3 linked regions of the Homo sapiens genome follow. The protein of the gene in region 2 purifies or fractionates together with the protein of the main gene of each other region. This does not show direct contact. Each region holds a gene or a part of one and is shown on either strand. Other genes may lie near its edges.

What was found.
Region 1: the proteins of SLC35F6 (region 2) and CRELD1 purify together in Homo sapiens (affinity purification with mass spectrometry; 2 studies listed by BioGRID and IntAct, with this or other methods). This does not show direct contact.
Region 3: the proteins of SLC35F6 (region 2) and ATP6V1A purify together in Homo sapiens (co-immunoprecipitation; 2 studies listed by BioGRID and IntAct, with this or other methods). This does not show direct contact.

Annotation. Positions count from the first base shown.
Region 1 is NC_000003.12:9,928,877-9,937,267, forward strand, and holds the start of CRELD1 (protein disulfide isomerase CRELD1 isoform 2 precursor), read left to right. Parts: upstream 1-4,957; 5' UTR 4,958-5,044; intron 5,045-5,174; exon of another isoform or gene 5,175-5,543; 5' UTR 5,544-5,562; coding exon 5,563-5,736; intron 5,737-5,958; coding exon 5,959-6,041; intron 6,042-8,391. Other genes in the region: IL17RC (interleukin-17 receptor C), read left to right, coding at 973-1,021, 1,152-1,273, 1,524-1,583, 2,019-2,067, 3,732-3,827, 3,944-3,982, 4,077-4,717. UniProt on the Homo sapiens protein: Protein disulfide isomerase. Promotes the localization of acetylcholine receptors (AChRs) to the plasma membrane.
Region 2 is NC_000002.12:26,767,011-26,774,444, reverse strand, and holds part of SLC35F6 (solute carrier family 35 member F6 precursor), read right to left. Parts: intron 195-7,434; coding exon 122-194; intron 1-121. UniProt on the Homo sapiens protein: Involved in the maintenance of mitochondrial membrane potential in pancreatic ductal adenocarcinoma (PDAC) cells. Promotes pancreatic ductal adenocarcinoma (PDAC) cell growth. May play a role as a nucleotide-sugar transporter.
Region 3 is NC_000003.12:113,777,873-113,785,306, reverse strand, and holds part of ATP6V1A (V-type proton ATPase catalytic subunit A), read right to left. Parts: intron 6,567-7,434; 5' UTR 6,554-6,566; coding exon 6,472-6,553; intron 4,258-6,471; coding exon 4,129-4,257; intron 1,084-4,128; coding exon 869-1,083; intron 612-868; coding exon 474-611; intron 1-473. UniProt on the Homo sapiens protein: Catalytic subunit of the V1 complex of vacuolar(H+)-ATPase (V-ATPase), a multisubunit enzyme composed of a peripheral complex (V1) that hydrolyzes ATP and a membrane integral complex (V0) that translocates protons.

The sequences.
Region 1 (8,391 bases), on a different chromosome or scaffold from region 2:
GAAATAAGAGAAGTGCTTCCCCTTAGGAATCGGTACAGACTAAATGCTCCATAAATGTAGCCACTTTTATTATTGCTATCCTTATTCTATTTCCATACCTGTAGAATGGGTTGCTCTACAGTTTCAAAGGGTGATTATAAGAACATTCACTCATCCGGCCAGGCGCGGTGGCTCACGCCTGTAATCCCAGCACTTTGGGAGGCCGAGGCGGGCAGATCACGAGGTCAGGACATCAAGACCATCCTGGCTAACATGGTGAAACCCCATCTCTACTAAAAATACAAAAAATTAGCCGGTCGTGGTGGTGGGCACCTGTAGTCCCAGCTACTAGGAAGGCTGGGGCAGGAGAATGGCGTGAACCTGGGAGGCTGAGCTTGCAGTGAGCTGAGAGGGCGCCACTGCACTCCAGCCTGGGTGACAGAGTGAGACTGGGCGACAGAGTGAAACTCCGTCTCAAAAAAAAAAAAAATTCACTCATTCAAGATTTTTTGAGCAGCACAAGTCACTGTTTTAGGCACTTGTGATAGACCCTAACATCTCTACCCTCATAGAACTTATATTGTAATGGAGAAAGGCAGGCAACAGACATTGTAAATAAATCATATAGTATCTTAAAATTGCATACAAATACCATGGGAAAGGGATAAGGTGGGACTGGGGTTGCAATTTTTAGCAGGGTGGTCATGTGAGAAAGGAATCTCTTTGAGAAGGTTAGATGAGAGGGGAACCATGCTCCGTAAGACATAAAAACAGCTTTAGGGTCAGAAGACGCTTTATACAGATGATCTCACAAGGCTGGGGCAGAGAAAGATGTAGTGATTCCTAATCACCCAGCCTTGAATCCACATCTGCCTCAGGTCAGATTGAGTGCAGATTCCCAACCCAACAGGCCTTCTGTTGCCTGCCCCATTCTGGTCTTTCTGCCTTTGGCTTTTGCTTTTCTTAGTGGCCCTAACCATGGTCTCTTCCCAGCAGGTGAACAGCTCGGAGAAGCTGCAGCTGCAGGAGTGCTTGTGGGCTGGTGAGTTGGGCCTGGGGGCAGCTGGGGCAGGGCCACCTCCTAGGGGTGAAGGTCAGGGCATGGGAGGCAGGCAAGTGGCCAATCCCAGCAAGGATGGGTCTTGGTCAGAGTGGCCTCTCACCCCTTCCAGACTCCCTGGGGCCTCTCAAAGACGATGTGCTACTGTTGGAGACACGAGGCCCCCAGGACAACAGATCCCTCTGTGCCTTGGAACCCAGTGGCTGTACTTCACTACCCAGCAAAGCCTCCACGGTTAGGACTGGGCGACCCTCCTCCACAGATCTCTCCAAATGCATCTCACATCTGGCCTCAAATTTTCACTCCATCCACCCTGTGCCGGTCTCTGGGAACATGGGGGGTGACTCAGACCAGGGCCATATTCAGCGGCATCACCAAAGTCTCCCAGTCCCCTCTACCTCATTCTACCCAGCTGTAGCCTGGTAGGTGCTGCCCTAAGGGTGCTACCTCCAGGTAACAGTGCCCCCATCCTTTGGCTTGGCAGAGGGCAGCTCGCCTTGGAGAGTACTTACTACAAGACCTGCAGTCAGGCCAGTGTCTGCAGGTGAGCTGGTGGAAGAAGGGCCCCACCTCAATGCCTAGGGGCAACAGGCCTAAAACTAGCACTCACCTACTGTCTATTTAGGCTTATTTTATGTTCAGCCCTGGGAAAGTTAAGAGTAGAAGAAGCACAGTTCCTATCCCCAAGGAGCACACTGTTGGCTAGACACCCATAAACAGATAACCACACCTACAGGTGCTAAGTTTTGGGTTCCAGGGAGAGCTTCCGGGAAGAATTTCTTCCTATAAGCCAGATTTGGTATGGAAGAAGTCATACCCTAGTCAGTGGGCACAGCACAAAGGCAGAGCAGCTGCAGGAACCTTAGCCGGGAGATATGCATAGTTGATGCTGGGAATTTGGAGATCAGGCCACCAGAGCTTGGTGAATATTGGAACACCTGGCTGGTGCCCTGGATTTGGTTCTGTTTGTATCTTACAGCTATGGGACGATGACTTGGGAGCGCTATGGGCCTGCCCCATGGACAAATGTGAGTATTGTAAGAACTGCCTTTCCTTTCTGTACCAGGAGTGGGGATCTTGACAGGGACCACTCTTGGGCACAGCACATGCAATGGCCTTGTCCTTCCCTGAGATCAGATAAACAGAGGGTCATTCCTTCATTCACTCAAAAAATGATGAGAGCTTGCAGGGATCGCAGGAACACCAAAAATATAAATCCTTGCCCCCGCCCCACCCCTAGAAGACTAGCAAGACATGAGCCAGTCACTTACATTTAAAGTGGGAGCTACTGAAGCACCACCAAGTGTTCAGTGCTGTAAATGCATACAATGTGGACCTGACCTGGGTGGGGTGAGGGGTGAGGGGCTCAGGGGGAAGGTTCCAGCAAAACTCTGAAGACTGAGCTAGGGGAAGGGGGTAGAGATACAGGGTCTTGGACAGGCAGGTTTCTGTCATGAGATAAAGATGCAGGAGACATGTAGGGGATTTGGATCTTATGTTGAGAGCAGCAGGAGCTACGATCAAATTTTTATATATTTCACACACACACACACACATATATATATATATATATATATATATATATATACTTATTTTTTTATTTATTTTTGAGGCAGAGTCTCACTCTGTTGCCCAGGCTGGAGTGCAATGGCGCGATCTCGGCTAACTGCAACCTCTGCCTCCCGGGTTCAAGCAATTCTCTACCTCAGCCTCCCGGGTAGCTGGGATTAATAGGCGCCTGCCACCATGCCCTGCTAATTTTTGTATTTTTAGTAGAGATGGGGTTTCACCATCTTGGCCAGGCTGGTCTTGAACTCCTGACCTCGTGATCCGCCCGCGTCGGCCTCCCAAAGTGCTGGGATTATAGTCGTGAGTCACCGCACCTGGCCCAAATTTATATTTTTAAAAGATCTCTGAGGCTGTCATGAATCAATTCAAGGCAAATCAATTGGAGGTAAAAAAAAAAAAAAAAAGACAGGGCAGGGACACCAGGTAGTTGCAGACACCCAGGACAGCAAGATCAAGGGCCCAGCAACCCTAGCTTAGGGGAGAAAAACAGCTGACATTTTAGCACTTAAGATGCTCGGCATTGTGTTAAGTATGTATTAACACATTGTGTTAAGCTTTATATGTATTAATATATTTAGTCCTCACACCAACCCTATGACACAGGTACAACTTTACAGAGGAGAAAACTGAGGCAGAGGGTGACATTACTTATTCAAAGACCCCTAAACAGATGGAGCTATATTCATCCACTGGCTCTGACACTGTGCTGTGGACTCTGGGCAAATCATTTCTTCGTTTTTTGTTTTGTTTTGTTTTGTTTTGAGAGGAGTCTCACCCTGTCGCCCAGGCTGGAGTGCAATGGCGCGATCTCGGCTCACTGCAACCTCTGCCTCCCGAGTTCAAGCGATTCTCTTGCCTCAGCCTCCCGAGTAGCTGGGATTACAGGCGTGTGCCACCACGCCCGGCTAATTTTTTGTATTTTTAGTAGAGACGGGGTTTCACCGTGTTAGCCAGGATGGTCTTGATGTCCTGACCTCGTGATCTGCCCGCCTCGGCCTCCCGAAGTGCTGGGATTATATAAAGGCATGAGCCACCGCACCCGGCCCAATTCATTTCTGTTAAGTCTCAGTTTTTCTTCTCTGTGGAGGGTAAGTTTCTAACTCTTCTTCTCTGGGTCTCCCAGACATCCACAAGCGCTGGGCCCTCGTGTGGCTGGCCTGCCTACTCTTTGCCGCTGCGCTTTCCCTCATCCTCCTTCTCAAAAAGGATCACGCGAAAGGTGAGCGCTTCCCGGCTCCCCATTCCCCTGGGGGAGGACCAGAGTGGCTGTGGGAGTTCTCCGAGGGAAAGCGGCGGCCGAGCTCACTGGCTGCCTCCGCCCCTCTCCCCTAACAGGGTGGCTGAGGCTCTTGAAACAGGACGTCCGCTCGGGGGGTGAGTGGGAGCAAGCGCTGGGCGGAGGGCCGCCCCCGGGGAGCCAGGCCTGTGCCAGCTCACCTCTTCCCTCCCCATCTGTTTTCTCCGGCAGCGGCCGCCAGGGGCCGCGCGGCTCTGCTCCTCTACTCAGCCGATGACTCGGGTTTCGAGCGCCTGGTGGGCGCCCTGGCGTCGGCCCTGTGCCAGCTGCCGCTGCGCGTGGCCGTAGACCTGTGGAGCCGTCGTGAACTGAGCGCGCAGGGGCCCGTGGCTTGGTTTCACGCGCAGCGGCGCCAGACCCTGCAGGAGGGCGGCGTGGTGGTCTTGCTCTTCTCTCCCGGTGCGGTGGCGCTGTGCAGCGAGTGGCTACAGGATGGGGTGTCCGGGCCCGGGGCGCACGGCCCGCACGACGCCTTCCGCGCCTCGCTCAGCTGCGTGCTGCCCGACTTCTTGCAGGGCCGGGCGCCCGGCAGCTACGTGGGGGCCTGCTTCGACAGGCTGCTCCACCCGGACGCCGTACCCGCCCTTTTCCGCACCGTGCCCGTCTTCACACTGCCCTCCCAACTGCCAGACTTCCTGGGGGCCCTGCAGCAGCCTCGCGCCCCGCGTTCCGGGCGGCTCCAAGAGAGAGCGGAGCAAGTGTCCCGGGCCCTTCAGCCAGCCCTGGATAGCTACTTCCATCCCCCGGGGACTCCCGCGCCGGGACGCGGGGTGGGACCAGGCGCGGGACCTGGGGCGGGGGACGGGACTTAAATAAAGGCAGACGCTGTTTTTCTACCCATGTGGCCCACACGCGTCTCCGTTTCAGTGGCGGGGCTGGCAAACGTCATTCCCTAGCCCCGCGGCCCTTTAAAGCCCGGACAGGTGCAGCTCGGTGCCGCCTCTGGTTGGCTGGCGTGGGGTGACGTAATGGCACATGGCCCGTCGCCATTGGCTGGGCGGCAAGCTCCGCCCCCTGGACTGCGGCGCGGGTGGGGGTTGTGCGTTTTACGCAGGCTGTGGCAGCGACGCGGTGAGGAGACGGCCCACGGCGCCCGCGGGCTGGGGCGGTCGCTTCTTCCTTCTCCGTGGCCTACGAGGGTCTGGATCCTTCTCTGCCGGCTCGTGGGCCGTGCCTTTGCCCTTCTGCGAGGCCCTGAATCTGATCCCTTCCCTTCATATCCGGATCCGGGCTCCTCCCTCCAAGCCCGGGGTTCCGGACACCTCCCCCAAGACAACCCCTCTGGCCTCCTCTCCTTCAGTACTTGGAATCTGATCTCTTCTCCCTAATTCTGCGGATCCGGCCCCTAATATTCTTTATCAGACCCTCAGACAAGAGGCTGACTTCTGCCCCCTTGTCAAGGAGCGAGGCCACTTTCCTCTCCACCCCATGCTAGCGAGGATAACTTATTTCTCTTCTGGAATTGCATCTTATGCGCCTTTCCCCACCCATCCCCACAGCCCCTGCAATACCCAGTTTGGCCTCTTTTGCTTGTAATAACGCAGATCCCAGCGCCACGGCACCTTAGAACAGACCTTTTTCTTTCTCGCGTGGGGCCTGACTCCTTCAGTGAAGCCTCTCCACGCCCTCTATCTGCAGGTCCCCAGCCTGGGTAAAGATGGCCCCATGGCCCCCGAAGGGCCTAGTCCCAGCTATGCTCTGGGGCCTCAGCCTCTTCCTCAACCTCCCAGGACCTATCTGGCTCCAGCCCTCTCCACCTCCCCAGTCTTCTCCCCCGCCTCAGCCCCATCCGTGTCATACCTGCCGGGGACTGGTTGACAGCTTTAACAAGGTGGGTGCACCGGCAGCCTCGTTAGAGGGGAACACAGCGATTTAGAGTGGGGAACTCTGGGATGCAAATCTGCGTGGATTTAAGTTTCATCTTGGTCTCTTACTAGTTGTATGGCCCTAGGCAGGTTGCCTTTCTGTGCCTCAGTTTCCTAGTCAGTAGAACAGTGAAGTGCTAGCATGTGCCAGGCACTGTACTTAGCTATTACTAATTTTCTGTTTCCAGGGCCTGGAGAGAACCATCCGGGACAACTTTGGAGGTGGAAACACTGCCTGGGAGGAAGAGAATTTGTCCAAATACAAAGACAGGTAAGGGGCTGCTGGGGGAAGGGGTGTATATTCCCCTCCCCGCCAAATCTCTGCTCTGCTGGTGTAGGGCTAGGAACTCTTGGGGAGCACTTATTCATTCAACAAATAGCACTGAACATCTATAGTATAGCAGTAAACAAGGCAAGCAAAATGCCCCCTTCCTGGAGCTCACATTCTAGTAGAGAAGACAAGCAGTGAATGAGTAAGTGAATAATATTATGTCAGATGAAGAACAAACAGTGAAGCACGGTAGACTGCAGGACGGTGGGAGGCAAGGTGTTCAAGGTTTGGCATTTGAACAGAGAGACAGGAAGTGAAGAAGCGAGCTATGTGACAGGGAGGGAATTGGGCAGAGGATGGGACTGAGCTTGGTGTATTTGAGAAGTGGCTGGAGTGGAGTGAGCCAAGGGGAGAGTGCTAGAAGGTGAAGGCAAAGGCTTAAGCCTCGAGGGCTACAGAAAAGAGTTTAGATTTTTTTTGGAGTGTAATGGGAAGCTCTTGGAAGGCTATGAGCAGAAAAAGTGATACTGTCTTCTCTACACCTTTAAAGATTACTCACACTGCTATGTAGCAAACGGATTGTAAGGGGCAAGGGCGGAGGAAGCAGGGAGACCAGTTTGGGAGGCAAGTGCATCATCTAGGTACAAAGGCAACACAAGCTAGTGTGGTATCTAGTGGAGGACATGATGAAGAGGTCACAGTCTGGGTATATTTTGCAGAGAGAACAATAGGACCTGGTGATAGATTCATTATGGGTATAGAGAAACAGTAGAATAAAAGATGCTTACTAGATTTTGGGCCTGAGCAACTGGGTGAGTAGTGCAGCTGTTTTCTAAGATGGTGAGATGCGAAACCGAGAAGGTTTAGGGGAGGGGTGGGATGTGGTGTTCTTTGAACGTATTGGGCTGAAATGTCCATTAGACATCCAGGTAGACTCCATACAAATCTGGAATTCAGAAAAGAGTAGGAATTGGAAACAGGAATTTGAGAGTTGTCATTATATAGTCAGTATGTAAAGAAAGCCATGGGAAGGATACAGAAAGCCATTATATAGTCAATATATGTAATACAGAAAGCCATTTATATAGTCAGTATGTAAAGAAAGGCATGGGAAGGATACAGAAAGGCGAGCCCTGAGCCCTCCAGCTTTTCAAAGTCAGATGGAAGAGGAGTCAGCAAAGGCTCAGAGTTAGACCTGGTTGTCGGTTCTTAACCTCTCAGAGCCACAGTTTCTTCACCTGTAAAATGGGGATATTAATACCTGGTTTGCCTATTTCATAGAAGTGTGGAAAAGGCTTAACTGGGATGCCCACTAGAAATAAAGGTTTTGTTATTATGTAACATTGGTCATTTTCTCTTTTCCTTCGCCGGGCCTGAGTTTCCTCATTCAGGAATGAGGGGATTGGCTAAGACAACCCCAGAGGCACTTCCAGCTTTGTAATGGCTCCTGCGTTGCTTGCTTTTTTAAATCACCTCCTATATGCCAGGCACTGTGCCAGACCCTTTAAATACAGGATATAAGACATCAAATATTTATATATGTGTGTATATATATGTGTGTGTGTATATATATATGTGTGTGTATATATATGTGCATATATGTCTGCGTATATATATGTGCGTATATATATGCGTATATATATATATATATGTATATATTTGTGGTAAAATACACATAAAAAATTTCCCATTAAAGACATTTAATAATATTTACAATGTTGTGTAACCATCACCACTATGTAGTTCCAGAACATTTTCATTACCCCCCCAAAAAATCCTATACCTATTACACAGCCACTCCCTATTCTCCCCTTCCCTCGGCTCTTGGCAATCACTAATTTGTGTTAGTCAAGCAGAAATTATGGATTTGCTGATTTCATTGGAATCATAAAATATGTGGCCTTTTGTGTCTGGCTAGTTTCACTTAGCATAATGTTTTCAAGGTTCACCCATACCGTAGCATATATCAATACTTATTCCTTTTTATGGCTGAATAATATTCTCATTTGGCTGTACCACATTTTGTTTAACCATGCATCAGTTGATGGACATCTGCATTGTTTCTACCTTTTGGCTGTTGTGAATAGTGCTGCTATGAACATTGTCTACAAGTTTTCGTTTGAACACCTGTTTTCCATTCTTTTGGGTCTATATCCAGTAGTGGAATTGGCAGGTCCTATGGCAATTCCATGTTTTACTTATTGAGGAACTGCTTTTCCACAGTGGTGATGCCATTTTGTATTCCCACCTGCAGTGTGGGAGGATTCTAATTTCTCCACATCCCTGCCAACACTTGTTATAGGATGTATTTTTAGCCATATCTACCCAGCAAGGGTATTATATTCCATTG
Region 2 (7,434 bases):
CTCTTCTGGGAGCAGGAGACACCTCCACTCCTAAGTCAGGAAACAGCCTGGCCTCATGGCCGGGGGTGGCGCCTGGTCTGAGGCCCGGGAGACAGGAGGTAGGAGGGACAGGGCCAGATACCTGGAGGAAGGGATGCTGGAAGCTGTGCTCCTTGCTCCCTCCACAGCCCTCGGCCATGAAATTGTCCGCCCATCTGTAGGAGAGAGAGGGAAGGTCAGACCCTGTCAGCATCCTACCCTGGTGCTAGTGAAGAGGCTCACACCTCTCAATGTCAAGAGGCCCAGACCTGGGTGACCCGGCCCCAGAGTGGGGCTCCCTCTCAAAGGGGTCAGTCTTCACCTCAAGGAGTTTTAACTTGGCATTTCCTCAAGTCACTGTGTCTGTGCCTCTGTAATGCACAGAAATCACAGATACTCTCATGATCACATTACAGTCATTGTATATATCGTGAGGTATCATTTACACTCATCACTCATGAACATTACAGTAGTCAGACCCACTTATAACAATGTAGTAGAAAGCATTTCTATATAGCTGGGCGCAGTGGCTCACGCCTGTAATCCCGACACTTTGGGAGGCTGAGGTGGGTGGATCACTTGACGTCTGGAGTTCGAGACCGCCTGGCCAACATGGTGAAACCCCGTCTCTACTAAAAATACAAAAATTAGCCGGGCGTGGTGGTACAAGCCTGTAATCCCAGCTACTCAGGAGGCTGAGGCATGAGACTCACTTGAACCTGGGGGACAGAGGCTGCAGTGAGCCGATATTGCACCACTGCACTCCAGCCTAGGTGATGGAGCAAGATCCTGTCTCAGAAAAAAAAAAAAAAAGCATATCTATATATATTCTATATCACGAATTTGCTTTTTTAAGTGTTTGATAACTGTATTTCAATTTAATTGACTTCTTTTGTAATCCTTGGTCTTTTTTTTTTTTTTTTCTTAATGGAGTCTCGCTCTGTCGCCCAGGCTGGAGTGCAGTGGCAAGATCTCGGCTCACTGCAAGCTCCGTCTCCCGGGTTCACGCCATTCTCCTGCCTCAGCCTCCTGAGCAGCTGGGACTACAGGCGCCCGACACCACGCCTGGCTAATTTTTTTTTGTATTTTTAGTAGAGACGGTGTTTCACCGTGTTAGCCAGGATGGTCTCAATCTCCTGACCTTGTGAACCACCCTCCTCAGCCTCCCAACGTGCTGGAATTACAGGCGTGAGCCACCGTGCCTGGCCCAATCCTTGGTCTTATTTACACGTTTTAAAACATTACTGTAAGAAGAGGTCCATAGGCTGTGCCAGACTGTCAAAGAGTCCCATGGCATGAAAAATATCAAGAACCTCTGGTCTACAGGAGTATTTGGGTCCTGGGAAATGACTTAATACAGACCACCTGCTCACCTTCAAAAAGCCTGAATGGTTTGGAAGATCTTTCTAATGCTGACTTTCAAGCAGGTGGCAAAGACATCACACTCATGGCATGACCTCCCAGTCAGCACCCGGCAGATGGTGATGACTGATTATGACATACTTCCCCGATGAGCCTAGACACAAGCCCAGAATCCTTTGTGGCATAGTGCTTTGGGCAGCTTAACCACCAATCACTCTGAACTGTCTGCCATCTGTGCATGAAAATTCTCTGTCTTGAATTTCGTCTTTGCTGGGCTTGGTTAGGTCTGTGGAATCTTGTCTAATCTTTCATTTGAAAGCCCTTTAGGTACCTGGGGACTTGTTGACCTTCTTCTGAATCTTCTCATCTCCTGGCTAAACAGCTCCAGCCTCTCCTAACCTTTCACCCCTGGCCACTGACTTCTGGAAGTACTCTGGTGTACCCAGGCCCAGAGCCAAGAGCATGTGATCTGGCCCAGACTGAGGCTAGCAAGGCGTGGCCCTCCCTCATGTTGACACCCTGGGTTCGTTGACACAGCTCCAAATGCATCAGTAACATCATGTGCTGACTGAAGTCAACACAGTCCCAGAGCCGTTTCCTGTGGGCCACCGACCTGCTCCCACTGCAGCATATCCTGCATAGGCAGTGGATGTCTTTAAAGTGCAAGACTCGGGACTTCTTTTTATTAAATGCCTTTCCTTGAAATGTCTTTCCAGGGCAGTCAGATTGCAGTGCACAGCCCTGCACTGCCATTGGCTCATCTCTGTAGCGAGCCTCAGCTCCCAAAGGGCGGGGGAGTCCTCTGGTTCCTGTACCTCCCCCGCAGCACCCAGAGCATGTGCCACTGGTTGTGCCGCAGTTAGGGTCTAGGTTTGACAAAGTCCCTGTCCAGCTTTGGCTTCTCTATATGCCTCTGAGTTTGCGGAAGAAAACAGGGCTATGGCAAACCTATTCCATAGTGAGAGACCCCACCAGCTCCTGGAGATGTGGAGAAAGAGGGGTAGTTAAGATTCCTTGTGGTTCTTGGGAATGGCAGGGGCAAAGGAGAGTTGAAGGGAGAAGTTCGGACAGAACTGTTTAGAAGGCAGAGAGAAACCTGGAGCCTGGCATGGCTTGGGGACCAGGCTGTAACCAGTACCAGTGGGGCAAAGAAAGCGCCTGCTATGGAACAGGGAGTCTGGGAGCTGGGGAAGCCTCCACCCCAGGTCAGGAAACACCTGACCTCATGGGCTGGAGTCTCACTTCTTTCTCTTTTTTTTTTTAGAGAGAGGGTCTCACTATGTTGCCATGGCTGGTCTTGAACTCCTGGGCTCAAGCAATCCTCCCGCCTCAGCCTCCTGAGTTGCTGAGATTATAGGCATGAGCCACTGCACCCATGGTGCCTAATTTCTGCCTGATATGCTGTTGGCTCTTGGATCCCTGGCCAGGACAGGACATGGAACATGGGTAAGGGCCACAGACCCAGCAGGGCTGCTCTCGAACCCAGTCTTGCTTTTGCAGAAAGAGCCCCCTGAGAAGGCCTGCATGAGGCAACTGAGTGAAACAGAGGCAAAGCAAGGAAGAGAGAAGAGGTCAAGCCTTACCAAGGGCACAGAGCCAACTGCCCAGAGCAAGTGAAGTCAGAGAGATGGGAATCCCCAGGCCAGGAGCCAAGTTTCCTCTAGGAGGGACAAGGGAGCTATTGCCAGGCCATGAAGGTTGATCAGAAGCTTCAGGCAAGGATTATTATTTATTTTATTATTATTTTTGTCTGTAGGGGGCAGGTATGGAAGCTGAGGCCACATTTCCATGAGTCCTACTTCCCACCTGAGTCTGAGGGCCCCCTGCTGGTAGAACAAGTTGGTCCATAGGGGAAACCCCTCGGGGCCTGTCCTTCCCCAAGGCTGGGGCGCTTCTTGGGGAGCTGACTGTAGGGCTGGTGCTGAGCTCCCCACCTCCCACAGGGGTTGTCTTCGCTTTCTCCACGGGTAGGTCTGCCTAGACAGGCCTGGCTGGCAGCGCTCCCGGCTGGGGAAATGGTATCTCTTTGTATCTGAGGGCCTGGGGCAGGCTGACAGCCCAAGGGATTGGGTGTCAGCAGCATGGGCTGCCTTGCCCAGCCTGAGATGCTCAGGCCTGCAGGTACCTTGGGGCAGAAAGCCAGGCTTCTCATCCTGGATTGGAGACAGGTTTCGACTCCTGGCGCAGAATCAGAAAAGACCCCAGCCTCACAGGCTAGAACAAAAATCCAGCCCCAGTTTGCCTGGGGATGACAGCAGTGACCCCTAAGGTGGGCAGCACTTTGCTGTCAGTTCTTCACAACGTTTGTTGTTTGTTGTCTTTTGTTTTTGTTCTTGTTTTTTTTTTTGAAACGGAGCCTCCCTCTGTCACCCAGGCTGGAGTGTAGCAGCGCGATCTTGGCTCACTGCAACCTCTGCTTTCCAGGTTCAAGTGATTCTCCTGCCTTAACCTCCCAAGTAGCTGGGATTACGGGCACCCACCACCATGCCCAGCTAATTTTTATATTTTTTGTAGAGACGGAGTTTCACCATGTTGGCCAGGATGGTCTCGAACTCCTGACCTCAAGTGATCCACCCGTATCAATCTCCCAAAGTGATCGGATTACAGGTATAAGCCTCTGCGTCCGGCCAACAACGTTTGTTTTTTTGTTTTGTTTTTCAGACAGGGTATTACTCTGTCACTGAGGCTGGAGTGCAGTGGCACAATCACGGCTCACTACAGCCTCAGCCTCCCAAGGCTCATATGATCCTCTCACCTCAGCCTCCTGAGTAGCTGGGACTACAGGCATGGGCCACCATGCCCGGCTAATTTTTGTATTTTTTGCAAAGATGCAGCCTTGTTTATGCTGCCCAGGCTAGTCTCGAACTCCTGGCCTCAAGAGATTGACCTGCCTCAGCCTCCCGAAGTGCTGGGATTACAGGTGTGAGCCACTGCACCCAGCCCATGTTTCCTTAAATGCACAATTCATAGGACACTTCATGGGGACTGTCCCGTTAAGCCTTACAACAAGGATCCTCATTTTAGATGGGGACTCTGAGGCTTAAGGCAGATCCAGGGTTAAACCTTGCTTGAATTTATACTCAGAAAAGGCAGAATACAGAGAAAACCCAGAGTTTTGAGTCCCACAGGCTGGACAAGTTACAGGGTAATCATACCAACACTGACAAACTGTCAGAAGCAATACATGATATAAGGATATATACATGACCTGGCACATGGCAGGTATTCAGCAAAACTCATTTTCTGCCCCTTCTCCTTTCCCTTCACTGAGCAGAAGCCATCTCCCCCTTGGGTTCAGCGTGGCCCCAGCTCCCCTTCAGCCTGAAAGCTACTGGAAAAACGTCTGGAACCTGTCCTGCTGGCTGAGGCAGAGGTGGCTGGAGGGACCTCAGGCTATTGTCCCTGCAGTTCACAGAGCCAAAATGCTGAAACAGAAGAAACTCAGCCATCAGCTGAACTCCTTATTTGACAGACAGGAACCCAGGGGCCAGAGAGGGCTCGAGGGGCTCACGGCTCCTCAGATGTTGAAACAGGGCCAGTACACTGGAAGCTCAGCAGGCAGTCATGCGCCCCCTCCCTGATGCTCTGAAGCTCTCCTCTGAGTTCTTGCTCCCCTAGCTGGTGGGAGGAGAGGGGCAGCCCAGTAGGTGGGCCTGTCTTCTCCACAGACACTGTATTCTAGGGGAGATGACCTCCAGGGCAGGAGGCCCGAAGGGTCCTAGCGGGGACAAGCTGAGGCCGCTCCTTTTGGCGGGCAGGCTGGGGAGTAGGCTCTCCGTGCTGGGTGGTGAGTCACTCCCTAGCATGGCCAGGCCCAAACTCAAAGCTCAGCATTCTGGGAGGTGTGCACGTCCACGTGAACGGGGGTGGCGAAAACAGACTGAGGAAGTGGCGATGGGGCTGGCTTGGGCAGATTAGCTGTGGCCATTCCCACAGAATCTCTGCCACTTCCTCTTGTGTCCCCAGCTTGTCAAGCCCAGTGAGTCCCCTTCTTTCTCCTGCCTGGGACCTACAGAAGGGCCAAGGCTTCTCCACTCTCTGGGGTGCCACAGCAGGTGGCCCTGGCTCCTGAGGTGACAATGGTGAGCCCTCTCATCTCCATGGAATGGAAAACTTTCCTTAAGCTGGGTGTGGTGGTGCATGCCTGTAATCCCAACACTTTGGGAGGCTGAGGCAGGTGGATTGCTTGAGCCCAGGAGTTTGAGACCAGCCTAGGAAACATGGCAAGACGCTGTCTCTACAAAAAATACAAAAATTAGGTGGGCACGGTGGCGGGTGTCTGTGGTCCCATCTACTTGGGAGGCTGAGGTGGGAGGATGGCTCAAGGTTGCAGTGAGCCTAGATGGCACCATTGCACTCCAGCCTGGGCAACAGAGAGAGACCGTGTCTTAAAAAAAAAAAAAAAAAAGGCTGGGCACAGTGGCTCATGCCTGTAATCCCAGCACTTTGGGAGGCCGAGATGGGCGAGGTCAGGAGATCGAGACCATCCTGGCTAACACAATGAAACCCTGTCTCTACTAAAAAAATACAAAAAAATTATCCGGGCATGGTGGCAGGCACCTGTAGTCCCAGTTACTCAGGAGGCTGAGGCATGAGAATGCGTTCACCCGGGAGGCGGAGCTTGCAGTGAGCTGAGATCACACCACTGCACTCCAGCCTGGATGACAGAGCCAGACTCCGTCTCAAAAAAAAAAAAAAAAGGAAACCTTCCTCAGTAGATCTTCAGTGTCCAGGAAGAAGGTACGGCAGGGATCACCAAGTCCATTTTACAGATGAGAAAACTGAGGCTCACAGAGGTCCAGTGGCTCATCTATTCCTCAGGTCCCAAGCCTCATGAACTTCCCACTCTACTACACTGTCCTCCTGAGTTAAGGCTTCCACAAGCTGGCCCAACAACCCCTTTGAAGCAATTATCCCATGCCAGTTCATGGAACCCAAGGGTGGTGGGGCAGCTGCCAAGGGCAAACATTGGAGCTGGCACAGAAAGGACACAGAAGAAGAGCAAACACCTCTTCTCTAGTAGAGGCCTAGTGGTTTCCAGGCTTCCTGCCACCTTCTTGGCAGGGTCCCTGGCCTGGGCATGAAAGGAAGTCAGGCTCATATCCCTGCCTGGCTGGGAGGGCCCTACAGCCTGCAGAACTTAGGAGGGGAGCTGAGCCTTACTTAGTGAGCATCTACTTGACCCTGGCTCTATTAATTAATTATTTATTATTATTATTTGTAGAGAACGAGGTCTCCCTATGTTGTCCAGGCTGATCTTGAACTCCTGGGCTCAAATGATCATCCCACCTCAGCCTCCAGTCTGGGATTACAAGCTGGAGCCACAGTGCCCAGCTGACCCCGGCTCTTCATATGTAGAACCTCAGTTGGATTCAGGAGACTGGGGTTCTGAAATGAGTACCTGTGGATGGGGCACTGGCTCACGTAGACAGAAATGGCTTGGCCTAAAGAAGATGATCGACAGAAGGTGCTAGTGAGGAGGTTTTGAGAAAACAGCCAGGGAAAGAAGAAGCCACTTCACAGGGAGGGGCCCCCTGCCAGGACCCAGGGATGGGGCCGCAGAGAGGAAAGCTGACCTGCCGCCCCAGCACAGCAGGCAGCACGTGCTCAGATGTGCTTCCTCATCCACTGCCTTTCATCCTCCCAAGAACCTGGGAAGGGAAACATCACTCTTGTCACAGGCCAAGAAACTGCCAGAGACAACCACAGGCTGTCAGTCTGAACCTTGAGTGGCCTGGACTCCAGCGGGAGGACCCTGTCAGCAGTGTCTCTGGGCTGGCTGAGAGGCTGGCAGCCCAGTCCTGGAGAGAGGCACATCAAAGGCTGGGAGCGCAGATGCCACTTACAGGTTTACAACTTCCACAAGCACAGGCTTCTCTGTCCTGGCCTGGGGAGCTGTGAGAGGAAACTCCCAGGAAGGAGGGACTCTGGGGTATCACAGTCATAAAAGAACAGGACTTAAAGTCCTGAGGCCTGGGTTCCAGCCTTCATTCAGACACCAAACAGTTGAATCACAGAAAGAAACTTCTCCTGAGGCCTCCTTTGTAAATTGTG
Region 3 (7,434 bases), on a different chromosome or scaffold from region 2:
CACCACGCCTGGCTAATTTTTGTATTTTTAGTAGAGACAGGGTTTCACCATGTTGGTCAGGCTGGTCTCGATCTCCTGACCTTGTGCTCTGCCCATCTCGCCCTCCCAAAGTGTTGGGATTACAGGCGTGAGCCTACATGCCCGGTCCCATTATATAATTACTATGTGAATATTGATACACCATTAAAATCAAAGTCTATTCTATGCCTAAACAACTAGGGCTTTAAATAAATGTAGCATCAGTTAATATGGTAGAAAACTGTTACATTTCTTTAAAAAGAAATACTATGTTCTGCTTTTTCATCCCTAAATCCAAGTTAAAAATAAACAAACAAAAACTTTCAAAAATTATAGGAGTTACTCAAAACTTATGTATTAAATATCAATTCTTTAATTACTTAGGGCACTAAAACTGGGCAGCTATCATATAGAAATAGAGGCACTCTGCAGGATAAAGTTCAAATGATACTTACAGAGGTATCATAATTCCCAGGTGGAGCAATGTAAGTTACAGTTCCTCTGTTTCGTGGGGGTAACATGATTTTGTGTTTGATAAGCGAGTTCTCACTGACAATTCCATAAATGTCTCCGCCAGTGATATGACTACCAACCTAGAGATAAATGTATTTGCTGTTTAATTTGCAAATAAATGTCAAGTAGACTTGCCCCTGCTGCTATAATTTAAATCAATTACCTGACTTATCAATAAAACATTAGTTCTAAAATCCCATGAAGTAGAGTTAAGAAAAACTTTAAACTATCCTTCTGTAGTCTATTTTTATTTGGACTAAGAGTACAATGTAGTTTACTAAACATTCATTTTATATTCTTTCAATAACTTCAGAAATTCTTGGTTACACAGACATACCCGTAGGTTTTTGCAAGGTGTAAAGTCCCATTTGATATCTCTGCTAAGAGCAGACACGTTTACTCCTCTGGGGATGTAGATGCTTTGGGTCTGACTGCTGATATCCGACAAAGGTCTTTGAATACCATCAAAAATGGCTCCCATAATGCCAGGACCAAGCTCTACAGAGAGGGGTTTACCAGTGCGAAGTACAGGATCTCCAACAGACACACCAGCTAAAAACAGCAGCTAAGGAAAACCTACTATGAAGGTTTAAAGACACAATTAACAGGAAATACCACAGTTTAACAAGGAAATGCCACTCAAGAAGTGAAAACGGAAGTTCCCAAACTTTCTCAGTTCACAGGATTCATAGTGTTTTCAGTAACTTCTTTCAGTGTCCCAGGACAAAAGATATATCTAACACTTGCATTTATTAAACAGTTATGTCTAAACAACCTAATATGTATATACGTCCTAACAACTGAGTAGCAATTTGAAAAAATATATGCATAAGTTGAAAGAAAAAATAATATTAATTTCAGTCCTAAATATCCATAATTCTCATGAATGTATATGCCCTTGGGGAACTATATAATTTTCCAATCTTGCAATCAGATTGGAAACTTGTTCCATTTTGATTGTCACATGATACCTGCTTTTGTAGCTTAGCAACTGCCAAAAACTCAGCTTTGCAAAGATATGACATCATTGACAAAAATATAGTACAGCAACATAATGAAACTGTTTATTATCTCAAGCTACTAGTTCATGTGGTGTCTGACAATATGTCTAACATTCCTGTGTTTGCCTCAAAAATTTTAAATATCCTGGCACCACATGAGTTTGCTGCAGCTTCTCAGAATGACTCTGCAAAGTTTGGGAACCACAGGGCTAAAAACAGAAGCAAAACTCCCTCATTAATACATTGCTTCACATATGCTGCTGAGGAATATCAGTCCCCTAATAAGGGTATTAGTACTTGGACAAAACCTAAAATCTTAAGAATAAAGTTATTTTGAAAACATACAAATAAGAATAAAATATATAAATAAGCATAATGAGTCCACTTTATTCTACACATTTGTTGACAGGAGTAAAATCAGTACAACTTTTCCTGAGAGCAATTTAGCAATATTTATCAAAATTCAAAATGGGTAAGTCGTGACCTAGGAATCCAACTTCTGTGAATTCTTACTATACTTACAATGTAGCACTGTTTATAACAACCAAAAACTAGAAACCAAAACTTCTATCATTAAGACATTGATAAGTAAATAATGGTACATTTATATGATGGAATTGTTATATGGCTGTAAAAAAAAGAACCAGAGTTATCATGAATTCCTCTAGAAATCTCTCTAAACTATGTATTTTCATTTCCAATTTTGATTATGAAAATTTTCAGAACAACAACAAAGTTGAAAGAATTTTACAGTGGACTCCCAGTCTCTACAAGCTAGGTTCTATATTTAACATTTTACTATATTTATCACATATCTATTTATCTTCTAGAATACACATACTTTTAAGTGAAAAAAAGCAAGGTGTATAACAGTACCTAAAATATGCTATCTTGGGAGGCCGGGGCAGGTGGATCGTGAGGTCAGGAGTTCAAGACCAGCCTGGCCAAGATGGTGAAACCCCATCTCTACTAAAAATACAAAAAATTAGCCGGGCATGCTGGCACGTGCCTGTAATCCCAGCTACTTGGGAGGCTGAGGCAGAGAATTGCTCAAACCTGGGAGGCGGAGGTTGCAGTAAGCCGAGATCATGCTACTGCACTCCAGCCTGGGCGACAGAGTGAGACTCTGTCTCAAAAAGCAAACAAACAAACAAAAAAACCATATATATATGTATATATATATATATGTGTATATATATACGTATATATATACACATGTATATATATATATAGAGAGAGAGAGAGAGAGAAAGGAAAGAAAAATACAAATATTTGTATTTGCTCATGTATGTAATTACTAAACTAGAAGGATATAAAATAAAGGGAGCTATAAATGTGGTTCCATGTGTGCATGGAGGTGTGTATGTGTTTTGATAAACGGCTAGATACAAGACAACAAAGGCAAGGAGGGTTGTCACTGTTTACATTTTCATTTATTTTAAATCTTCAAGCCATGAAAAAGATTAAACAGATTAAAAGATAAAAGTAAAAATAGAAAAAATATTTCTGATTAGTCACAATTTCATAGCTACAAAAACTTCTATTTTTATTTAAAATTTCTAGATGATTTTGTTTTAAATTGGCACCTAGTACTATAAAGAGACTAGTTATCTGCACGCATGTGTTTTAGAATGGCAAAAACGTCGTACCAAATAAATCTTGATTAAATACTCAAAGAATTAATGCTGATTTTGAGAATCAAAGTAAAACACATATAGAAGCACTAAAAAAGTGGTTCTTCTTCACTAGGCTTAACCCTTTATTTTTCATAGAAAATTGAAAATAAATACTATGTTTAAAAGCCAAAATTATGATAACCAAATAGTAAAGCTTTCCTAGTAATAAAACTGAAATGTAATATGTCACTCAGTGCTATCAAAAGAATGGTGACCGTTTTATTTGTGGACTTACTATTTTAAACTGAAATCATAATTAGAGAATTTTAACCTCACAAGTCAATATTGTTATTCTGTTTACGCTTTCTTCTACAATATGCGTCCCAATGAAGAAAAAATTCACTTGGTCCCCCTTAAGTTCATGAATTACTGAAGCAGTAAGAGCAATGAAAGTTCAGAAGATACTAATTTCTTAAAATAAGAGTACCAATTCATAGTACTTTTCTCTCTTTCTTTAACATACTCCTGCATAATTCAGGTCTCTTCACAACACCAGCATTTCATGCTTCTAATATCATTAGTTGTTGCTGCTTTGCTGCTTCCACCTTTGGCTTAAATCCTCAATTTTTTTTTTCTTTTCTGAGATGGAGTCTCACTCTGTTGCCCAGGCTGGAGTGCAGTGGTGCGATCTCTGCTCACTGCAACCTCCCACCTCCAGGGTGCAAGCGATTCCCCTGCCTCAGCCTCCCAAGCGGCTGGGATTACAGGCGCCTGCCACTATACCCAGCTGATTTTTGTATTTTTATTAGAGATGGAGTTTCACCATGTTGGCCAGGCTGGTCTCAAATTCCTGACCTCAGGTGATCCACCTGCCTGCCTCCCAAAGTGCTGGGATTACTTTGTGTGAGGCACTATGCCTGGCCTAAATCCTTAAATTTTGAAATATAGAAAGTGGCAGGAAATTGAGCCAAAAAGGATACAAGTTTCTTCATACACCTGAATAGTAGCCATGTCACCCTCCAATCGAATAATCTCTCCAACCAATTCGCTGTGGCCCACTCTCACCAGCTCATACATGGCTGCACCCGCCATGTCACAGGCTGTAACCACTGAAGAGAACAAAAGACTATTTTGATGACTTAAGACTCTAGTGCTCTGTGAATAGTCACAAATAATTAAAACACCCAATAAACCCAGTATTGTGCCTCTCTCATATATTCATAAGAAGGATAAAAACCTACTATGGAACATACTGGTAGTTTCACATAGATATATATTTTAGTGTATAATATAAAGAGGTAAGCCAAAGATTATTTATTTACATAATATACATGAAAACTTTTCAAACATTTCAAGTTCTGCATGGCAAACTTACCTGGTAGGATTCAGGTATGTTCTGAGAGTTGCTATGATACATGGAGTGAAGGCTTTGGAACAATAAAAAAAACTTTTAAAAGTAGAAATTGGAATAAATGGTTTGGCTAGTAGTATGGTAGAATGCCACACAATTATCACTTCGCTGTGCTGTTACCATTTCCTTTGAGAGACAGACCTAAAGCAACATGTTTACTTTCTAATAACTTATAGCAGTAGTTCTTAAAACTCTTCTGGGACATGGACCCTTTTCAAAAACTAATAATAGCTCTACTAGAAAAACTCACACACACATCTACAAAATTTTTTTCATAGGCCGTAAGGATATTTATAATCAGTCACCACCATTGGGTAAGAAATTGTCAATGGAATTCCATTTACTGAACTTACTATTTTGGACCATGTGGTCTAGTAAGCAAAAATTACTTTTCTAGCAGGGAAGGAAGGTTGCCATATTTTTAGACACGTGTAAGAATAAACCAATTTTTAATATTTAGCCTTCTGATACAACTGATTAGAACTATGTTATAGGTAATACTTCAGTGGAAACTATTAAAGCTTTATGAGTTAATTAACCTGTGTAAAAACAATGAAGACTTATTCATTCTATAAATATTTACCTCTATGCCGACTACTTAAGAATTAAGATGCACTGAAATACCAGAGATAATGAAATTTAAAAATCATATTTCATAAGCCAAAAAAGGATGCCATTGTTCCATTACCTTATTAAGTACTTAAGAATTAAAAATTGCAGGAGGCAAGGGGAGGGAGAGCATTAGGACAAATACCTAACGCACGTGGGGCTTAAAACCTAGGTAACAGGTTGATAGGTGCAGCAAGCCACCATGGCACATGTATACCTATGTAACACACCTACACTTTCTGCACATGTATCCCAGAACTTAAAGTAAAATTTAAAAAAATTTTTAAAATAAAATAAAAATTGTTTCCAGGAGCAGTTTACTACACAGTTTCACAGAATATTTTTTCCTAAACTCTCTGATGTTCTTTTGCCTTTTCTCTAAAGGTTCTTGGGTTTAGTCTGTCCATCCTGAAGACCCTTATGATCATTGAGAGGACAATTATTTCTCTGCATGGCAAAAGATACTGATAACCTTTTAATGACCTGCCAATGAAATCAAGCTCAAACACCAAGTTCTTGGGGGAGAAAAAAGAGGCACAGTGACTGACAGTCTTCATTTGCGTAAACATCAAAAAACTGTCATCACCACTACTCTAACTAGAACAAGAAAAAGACTATATAGCATGAGGTTTTAAGGATAATACATCACTGACCAGGTTTTACTTAGAGAAACTGTGACTGTGAATCACATTGTGTAGTGGGAGTATTCAATAACAAAACAAATACTGGCGTAAGATTTATTATTTAAAAAGCAGCACTCCATGTTTTGGCAGAATGGACATAAAGTTTGGGTCCTAAGACTTCTTTCCCACAGGTAGTTAATAATGTGACACTTAAAATAACCATTCAAAAAGTTTCATAAATGCAAAGGGCAAAAGCTAATATTGCTGAGAAATGCTCTGAGCGTTTGAATTATTAAAGTTCAAAGCAAATTAACATTTACTGAATGCCTGCTATATGCAAGGTATTACATATTAAAAGCTATAAACTTCATAGTTTATTTACCTCAAATTTAACAAAAAATTAAGACATATAAAACTGAACACTGGTTGAACATTTACATAATTATAAACAGGATATCACAAAGTAGTACCTCAATAATTATAAAATTTAGATAATCAATGCTAGATGAGCCCTTATGACAGAGATTCTACTTCGGTCTTATAGTCACTATGAGATCGCCTAAGGACAAACAGAATTTATGCAGGTAAACAGAAAGTTGTATATTTCTATGTAAAATATTTTGAAAAGACATTAATCAAAGTTAGATATCCTTATTTTGAGATTATGATGTATTACTTACCAGGTCCTGAGACCCCATGCACATAACCAAATGTGCTTTCTTTATCTTCATCGAGTATTTTGGGTAGCTTGGAAAAATCCATAATGTTAGTTTACCTATAGTAAATAAATAAATAAATAAGTTATAATTATAAACCGTAAAGCAAAAGACCCAAAATATAGGTAGTCCACTAAGATGAGACCACTCTCATCTTTGGTGTATTCTTGAGTTATTATACTTCTTCAAAGTAGAATAAAAAAATTCCTTTTCTTAATTTAAAAAAAATTTTTAAGAGGCTCTCTGTCACCCAGGCTGGAGTGTGGTGGTACAGTCATAGCTCACTGCAGCCTCAGACTCCTGGACTCTAGCGATCCTCCTGCCTCAGCCTCCCAAGTAGCTATGACTACAGGTGTGTACCACCATGCCCAACTAGTTTTTTGTTTGTTTGTTTGTTTGTTTTTTTGAGACAGAGTCTAACTCCACCACCCAGGCTGGAGTGCAGTGGAAGGATCTCTGCTCACTGCAACCTCTGCCTCCCGAGTTCAAGCAATTCCTGTGCCTCACCCTCCAGGGTAGCTGGAATTACAGGTGCACGTGACCATACCTGGCTAATCTTTGTATTTTTAGTAGAGACAGGGTTTTGCCACGTTGGCCAGGCTGGTCTCAAACTCCTGACCTCAAGTGATCCACCCACCTCAGCCTCCCAAAGTGCTGGGACTACAGACGTGAGCCAGCCACTGAACCCAGCCAAAATTCCTAAAATGTAGTTAAAAGTACCCTATTCCTGGATGCTGGATGGTTTTATCACAACTGAATTATATCTCTATGTGAGGTATTTCATAGGAAATATCGATAACTATAACAAAAAATGTGAAGTCTTTTCAATAACTTATCCACCCCCACAACAAGCCCATCCTCAATGACCTCTCTGACTTATCCAGCTACTCTTTCACTTAATCATGCTGCAGATACACACTGAACTCT